Regions from separate parts of the Homo sapiens genome. Here region 1 is reported to be linked to region 2. The links are microRNA targets in miRTarBase. Many come from high-throughput screens and were not tested one by one. Region 2 holds a microRNA gene; the other region holds the end of a gene's coding sequence.
Evidence for each region. Region 2 holds the annotated microRNA hsa-miR-942-3p (CACAUGGCCGAAACAGAGAAGU, at 2,072-2,093, opposite strand). A microRNA usually pairs through its seed, bases 2 to 8, with sites in the 3' UTR of a target mRNA and lowers its output. Matches are read on the target gene's strand: a 7mer-m8 pairs with bases 2 to 8, a 7mer-A1 pairs with bases 2 to 7 and ends in A, and an 8mer does both.

Region 1 (4,064 bases), not on the chromosome of region 2:
GGGCTGGGTCTGATGAGAGCTCAGAGTGCAAAAGAAATGCTTTCCTTCTTGGCCCTTTCAAATCTCACCCCAGCACTGAACAAGGTCTAACCTTTGAATTTCAGATGTTAGAAATGTGGAAAGATGATCCAATTATAATAAGAGGAATGAAGTGAATTCTCCTGAGGTGGTGGAAATAGCTCAGGAACAGAAACCAAGAGATCTGAGTTTTTGTCCCAGTTCTGCCACTTGTGAGTCGATTAACCTTAGGCAAGTTAATTCACCTCTGGGCTGGTTACTGAGGGTACTGGCCAGAGGCTCCATAAGTCCCTTCCCCAGTGCCCTTTTGGGACTGTGCAGAACCCAGAGAGCCCTCAGTAACAAAACGGTACTCAAGCCTGCCTTCCACTGAAACCCTGGCTCCTGGAATACTCCCCTCACCAGCCATAATGCCATTACTGTCCCTTCCAGCTGCAGTCCAGCTGGAACCCAGTCTAGAGCCCGTTCTCAATTTCAGAAATGCCCCAAATCACGAAGAAGTGATGCGTGTTGGGCATATTCAGTCTCTGGTGGTCCGAAGGGCAATTATAGTCAAGAAACAAGTTGCACTTGCTGTGCCTGCGGCAGCCGGTACTCTGCAGAAAGGAAACCACCAAACCAAACCTATTATCCAAGTCACTGTGTCCACTGTTTTTGCAGAGTAATATTATCTGAGATAACTTCACAGTCAAGCTCTGATTGAATTGTTAGCAATGGCTTTATTTGCTGCTTTGTCAGGGCAAGAGAGTAACCGCTAGATGAGACTAAGTCAGCTTTCCACAAACATATTTTTGCAGTGTGTTAGCATTTGTGAAGAGGTAAACGTATTTTCTGGAAACAGAGTATACTTGCAGTTTTGTTCCTGACCAACAGTAGACCAATCAGCTGAGGTCTGAACCCTAATTATGTACCAGAATCGCCTTGAGTGCTTGTTAGCACAATTCTTGGGCCTCAGGAATCCACTGAGACTTTCTCAAAAGTTCCCCTAGAGACTAACTACTAGCATTTTATTCAATTTCTGGAGTGAGTTCTGGATGCTTACATCACATCCCTTTGTACTGTTTGAAATCCTTCCCACAGAAGACACCTCACACACGCACAACAGTGCCACACTTAAGCCAACACCACAGGAAAAATCTCCTTCTAAAACTCCTTGACCAAATATCTTGCTTTACCTACATGGCTGACTTTTGAGTACGGCAGTCTTGGGCTTATGGCACTTCCCTGGAGGCCTGTTAATCACAATCACTAGCAGGACACAGTGGCTCACACCTGTAATCACAGCACTTTAGGAGGCCAAGGCAGGAGGCTTGCTGGAGCCCAAGAGTTCAAGGATGCAGTGAGTTATGATTGCACCACTGCACTCTAGCCTGGGGGAAAGAGTGAGACCCTGTCTCAAAAAACAAAACCCACACTAAAAGCATTGCTACAAAGTAAAGAAACAAGCAATTCAGGATGAATGACAAGCAGCCAGCACTATTTTCTAGACAATTCCAAAATATTTTGATTAAAGCATAATCTTGTCTCACAAACACCTGGCATGTGGATCAACATTAAAATGTTCCCCACCCTAGACTGCACTTAAACCTAGTGGCATAGCCTACTACACACCTAGGCTGTATGGTAGAGCCTATTACTCCTAGACCACAAACCTGGACAGCACGTTACTATACTGAATACTGTCGGCAACTGTAACACAATGGTATTTGTGTATCTAATTACAGTAGAAAATACATTATAATTGTATGGGACCACCATAGTATATGCAGTCTTTGACATGTAATAATGCACAGCTGTGTATCAAAATGCTAACCATGTGATGGCATGTGGTAGGACAATGTATAATTTCCCTTTTCTCTATTTTCTAAATTTTAAATGTGAATTTATAATTTTGTATAATATTTATTACACTTATAGTGTAATAAACATTGAAAACGTTCCCAACTTTTACACCAACTTTCTTATTCACCAGAGGGAGTTGTGACTTTTTTTTTTTTTTTTGAGACAAGGTCTTGCTCTGTCATCCAGGCTGGAGTACAGTGGCACGATCTCAGCTCACCTCCTGGGCTCAAGTGATCCTCCCACCTCAGCATCCAAAGTAGCTGGGACTACTGACGTGCACCACCACACCCGGCTAATTTTGTTTATTTTTAGTAGATGAGATCCCACTATGTTGCCCACGCTGATTGTCAAACTCCTGGCCTCAAACTATCCTCTTGCCTCGGCCTCCCAAAATGCTGGGATTACAGGAGTGAGCCACCACACTCAGCCAACCTTAACTCTTAATTATTGGAAATACCCAAACCTCAATGCCTTACCCCATATGGAAGGCAAAATCCTGTATTCCCAATTCACACATGAAAATTACACGAGAGGTAAGTCAAAAATGCTTCCTTTATTACATAAAGCCAATACTGCTACTTCTAAGTTCAACTGTTTGTGCATCTCTATATCGTTCAAAGTGTTACGCCCGTGATATTAACAATGACCGCTTCCAAGTGTCAGTGAACAGTGGCTCCCTGTGAGTGTCATCATGGTACCTCTCCCCATTGCACACAAGTCAACAAACTGCTCTAGAAAGTTAAGTTCTCCCAGGCCCAGAGTAAACATATACTCAATATTCTTCCATACTTTATTATACCATAAGAAGCAAACTTCTGAAGGAGATACAATTAAAGATACCACAGGTGTCCTAGCTTGTCAATATTCTGTTTTATCATTTTCATTAACAAAGCAGATTACAATGTAGCCCTAATTTGCATTATAATTAGTTGTTACAAGACACTGCACATTCTCCTGAAGACACACAATGATTTCCAAGATGCCAGGTCACTCTTCCAATCAGTGAATGGCGAGCTCACTGGCAGGTGCAGGGCTACTTCCTGTATTCCAATGATGTGCCTGAAATAGCGCTTTGCAAGATGAGCGTGGATTATGTGGACACAATTTTGAGGCAATCTCCATTACACATTTGGTAGAAGACTGCCTAACTTAATCTTACTATTAGTGTATTAGTGTTGTTATATTATGAAGACATATTATATTCCATTATTCTGCTTAGCTCAAGGAAGAATAAAGAATTTGGACCAAAATTATAACCAGATTATGAGCAATTTCCTAAGCAAAAGAAACAAAGTAAATGCTGAGGTTAATAAAGATGTAATAATTCTCTTCACATGGCCTTTACTGTTTGTGAACTGTGTAATTTAAAATCCTGAGCTTAACAAAAATCTTTATAAATCAACTCATCAAAACAGGCATTTGGCCAATAAGAATTTAATTTCACATCAATAAAACTTTAGACTTTAGATTTATTTAGGGCTGTTTGCATATGTTTATAGAATAGTTTACTCTAAAAGATGACAAGACAGCTCCCCCTCAGTGAGACCCTGGCCTAAATATATTTGCTTTATTTATATAGCAAGAGGATAACATTAAACATGGAAGCTTTCAATTTGTGGCACTGAATAATCTACACAGGGCATCCTTCAAAGGCTACAATTAAGGATCCACCTAACTTTTCAGCAATACAAGCCCGATTGAGATCTTCTGGTCCATTTGCTTGACATTCATGTTTTATGCCTAGAGAGAAAAAACAACACTTCTATTTACAATTATGGCAGCAGTTTACCTCTTTCTCTAAGATAACCAAACTTTTAAAAGACCAGTTCTAATCTGGATAAACTGGGGTATATACAAACACGGAATACTACACAGTAACGAGAAAAAATAATTGTAACTACATGCATCAAGATAGATGGGCCTCACAAACAGCATTCACTGAAAGAATCCAGATTTAAAATGCATATATTCTATTATATATATAGGTATAGCATACAAAATCAGCCCACGCTAACTTACGCTGTTAGAAGCCAGGGTGCTGGCTACTTTGAGGAGGAAGGGGCAGGCAGAAGTGCTATGAATTGAAGGGAACAGCACCAGGGAGGCTTCTGGGGTGCTGGTCATTAGATTAAGAAATAACCATTATGTTCACTCTGAAAAATTCAACACATTCTACAATAATTTGTGACATACACTTTTCTAAA
Region 2 (4,068 bases):
TATTTGTGCTCTTTAAAAGTATCCCAATACATGTCTAATAAATTCTAAACACTCGGAGGAATCAAGGCTGTAAATATTTTTAAGTTGCCATATCAGAATTCTCTTTATATGGCTGGGCACGGTGGCTTACGCCTGTAACCCCAGCACTTTGGGAGGCCAAGGCAGGTGGATCACCTGAGGTCAGGAGTTCAAGACCAGCCTGGCCAACATGGTGAAACCTCATCTCTACTGAAAATACAAAAATTAGCCAAGCTTGGTGGCAGGAGCCTGTAATCCCAGCTACTTGAAAGGCTGAGGCAGGAGAATCGCTTGAACCCGGGAGGCGGAGGTTGCGGTGAGCCAAGATAGCACTATTGCAGTCCAGCCTGGGCAACAAGAGCAAAACTCCGTCTCAAAAAGACAAAAACAAAAACCAACCAAACAAAAAGAATTCTCTTTGTATAACTCAGAACAGTTAATTATGCGGCTCTGATGTGACCAGCTTGTACCTGAGGGCCTCTGGAGTGGTTAAATGCCTCTACCAAGTCCATTCTCTGCTTGGGATTGACAGAGCCATCGATGGTGGCATAAGTCAGTCCATGCTTCTTCAGGTGCAATGCTACAACTTTCAGCATGTTGGTCCACTGAGAGACAATGACACTGGAAAGAAGAATAAAATAAAAAAATACCCTAACATAGATTAAACAGACTCATCTGCAGGGCTTTAATGCCCTCATCATTCTTAAGGTTAGCTATCAAATGTTGACAAGGAAAGGCCTTCTGCTACCTAAGGGAGAAGGCACACATTTAGGTCATATCTGAAGATTATAATGCTTCCAGTTATTTCTAGGTCCTTTCTACAATTTATTTAGTGCTAAATGAAGTCAGAAAAAAATGGTAGCTAGAGTAAAGTGATGACTCCAGCCTTCTTTCATTTGGGGTCCTAGTGCTCATCCAGAAATCTGTGGTCCTGCACAAAAGGGACACACTGACCACCCTTCTTGTGCCAGCCAGAACAACAGGCTCCTCCCTGCCCCCACGCTGTCTTAATTCGAGTTCTAAATTTTTATATTGAATTATTTTATAAATAATGCAGGTGTATAGCACATATGTCAGGTATAACAAATGAGTCCTTGTATCCAAGTACTCAGCTTAAGAACGTTATCAGCACTGCTGGAGCCTCCTCACTCGCTTGCTTTTCTTTATATGCTTCTCTACTTTTAAACACTTTTTCAGATGCTTCGCTTACCCTGATCCTCTAGGGATCTCCTTTTCAATTTGTACCACAAATATTTTAATTAGAAATCACAGGGAATGTGTGCTATAACCTCAGTGCTTTCTGCTGAGCATGACTCACAGTCCTTGATTTATAACTCTTGGCAATATCAAATTTTCTCACATAATTATGACCAATACTTGGATAATGAGAAAACGCAGTTACCTCTTTTGGGATGCTGAATTTCTTTGAATTGCCTCCAATTCTGCCAACAGAGATGAAATCTGGGAAAAGGTTACATCAACATTGTATGTTTAAGCAATTCACTTTTCTCCATCTCCCCTCACCTGCCATGCGAAGCAGCCTCCTACATGGCGTCTGTGCTCTGGCCTCACCTGTCTTTATTCCACCCTCCTCTCTGCAGCCAGAAAGCTCTTTCTAAAATGTGAGTTTGTCACTTCACCCCTCTGGCTAAAGCCCTTCCATAGCTTCCCACTGAGGATAAAGGCCAAGCTCCTCAAGGCAGCTTGCCGGATTCTTGCTGCTCCAGCCTCTGCTTCTCTGGGTTCGTTTCTCACCATGCCCTCCTCAAACGACACAGCAAGCACACCAAAATTCTTCCCATAAATCACACACTGGCCATCTTGTCCATTCTGCTCCCTCTGCCTAGAACACCCTTTTGTGTCAGCTTAATGTCACTTCTTCTTGGAGGTCCTCCCAACCCCCAAAGTACAGGTTAGGTGCCCACTGCCCAAGTACTATCATAGCACCTTTTGTTTCTATTATCACGGTCCTTGTCATACTGTATATTAATTGCTTATTATCTCTTGCTTCCAGGACTTGAGACACTCCAAGGAGGCAAATATTAGGAAAGTAACTTCTCTGTTTCGGCCATGTGTGAGGGGCTGTGAGTACACACATGGCCAAAACAGAGAAGATACTCTCCTAATGTTTGCTGAAGAAGAAAGTGAAAGAGCTTTACCCACTTTATGGCCTGCTCCAAATGTTGTTGAAAAGGACCTGTCCAGACGGAGGAACCATTGTTAAAGCTTCCGAACAGGCTCCCTGGGTATTCCCCAAGAACCCTTAGGGTGCACTTGAGTCCACAGGGGAGCTGTCAGTAAGAACACGTGGGGCATGACTTTGGAGTGCAGCTGGGCTCATTCTTCCCAGCTGCTCATGTGAAAAACCTTTCAAGAGCCTCTAAGGGCCCCAGAGTTCACCCCCAGAATGCTGGAGAAGGAAGAAAACTGGGCTGTAAGTCAATCAGGAGACAAATATACAGAAGTTCTTCCTCTGTCCTCATATGGCTGGACCACTTTGGGACTCAGATTCCTCATCAGTGAAAAGAAGGACTTAGGCCAGATAAATTCTGAGGTGCCCTGAGCTCCCACATTCTAGGATGTCATTACAGTGGTCACCACATGGGGCTGCTTTCCAATCTTAACAAACATTCTGGTGCCTAGGCAGGAAGTGAGTCACAGAACTGTACCATTCAAATTAGCAGACAGAAAAGCAGCTACATCTGTTATTTAGTTAACAATAGAACAGAGACACTGATGTGCCTGGTGTCTTGGCAACTTGAGATTGTGGAAGGCGCTGTGACTCCCACATGAAAAAGCTAGCCATGGTGTTTTGAGAAAACTGCAGCAGGAGGGCTGGATTTATGGCCCACGAGCCGGGGTCAAATTCCAGTAAGAAGCCTCCTTCCCTACTTGAAACAACCGTATGTGGTTTGAACTATTAATGGACATATGTTAAGAAAACTTGTGAATAAATATTACCTGCATTTAATTAAACAAGGAACACAAATGATTAGGAATTTAAATTTTAGCCCAATAGCTCACTCTGAAGGCACTAGCATGTGTGTTCTGGCCACATGGGATGCTCTTCTTATGTTTCTCTCAGCTATCAGTGGTAAAGACCTAGGTAAATGTTTTCAAATTTTAATTAAAAGGCAGCATTCCTTTTAAAAAATAATGCCATTCCCCTGGAAGTGACCTTTCTAGTTATTAATACACTTTTTCAAAAAAAGCCTTTGAAGAGAGGTTGAGCCCAAGAACGGCAGCTTGAGATGCTAAGAGAGAAACAAGCCTCACTTTCAAGACAGGCAGGATGATGAAGCACATTCCGAGCCAGCAGACAGGCAGGATTCAGGTTACGGCATATCTAAGCCTTCCTCCAGCAGAATGTTTCTGCCTTAAAAAGCTCTGACGAAAACAGAGCAGAATGACTAATGAAGACAGAAGGCTATGTAGGAAACACTACTCACATGTGGAAGCCTTTCAAAGTCAGAGCAATTGGCGCTCGCATGTATGACACAGTCTCTAGAGTCAAGCCTTTGTTTTCCTTTTAAGCTTTCTCTAAACAAATTGCTCACTTGCATAGGCCCCGTCCCTAGCACAAACCTGGCAAGCTCCCCAGTGACCCATGACAGAAAACCCACTTCAGTGCAATGCTGGGGTTGTCCCAAATTACTCTCTCAAAGTCCCCTATGTAGTAAGGCTTTAGTGTTATCTGTGAAATAAATGAAGCTTTAAGACTGGAGGGAGAATCTGATCAGCTAGAATTTAACGGCTCTAGCTCTGCTGGCAAATGGCTGTTCCCACTTGGACAAATGAAGTGCTGTCACACAGGAAAATGTGTGAGGAATCGAAGTCTCTCGACTACTACAGAGGAGACAAAAAGTACCTTGGTGCTCTCTCGCATGCCTTCAAAAAGCTCCATCTTGAAGAAGGTGCCGTTAAGGGAAACAGTGGAAGATGGCTCTGAGTCACGGAGTTCTGACAAGGTCAAAGCACTGAGCTGTTCTTCCAGGGAAAGGACAAGACCTTCACCCTTCAGTTCCATTGGATCCAGGGCCTGAACAGACA

Region 1: the mRNA of DSTN is a reported target of hsa-miR-942-3p. Seed matches in the 3' UTR shown: 7mer-m8 at 3,193-3,199 and 8mer at 1,195-1,202.

What each region holds. Positions count from the first base shown.
Region 1 is chr20:17,606,573-17,610,636 of GRCh38, reverse strand. It overlaps DSTN (destrin, actin depolymerizing factor), which reads right to left. Exons shown (of 4, transcript NM_006870.4): 4 at 718-3,600. The coding sequence ends at 3,491. Among named protein-coding and RNA genes, the nearest start is that of DSTN, 39 kb to the right of the region's middle.
Region 2 is chr1:117,092,720-117,096,787 of GRCh38, reverse strand. MIR942 (microRNA 942) reads right to left here and starts at 2,145; the gene lies at 2,060-2,145. It overlaps TTF2 (transcription termination factor 2), which reads right to left. Exons shown (of 23, transcript NM_003594.4): 18 at 3,887-4,057; 19 at 1,421-1,479; 20 at 489-639.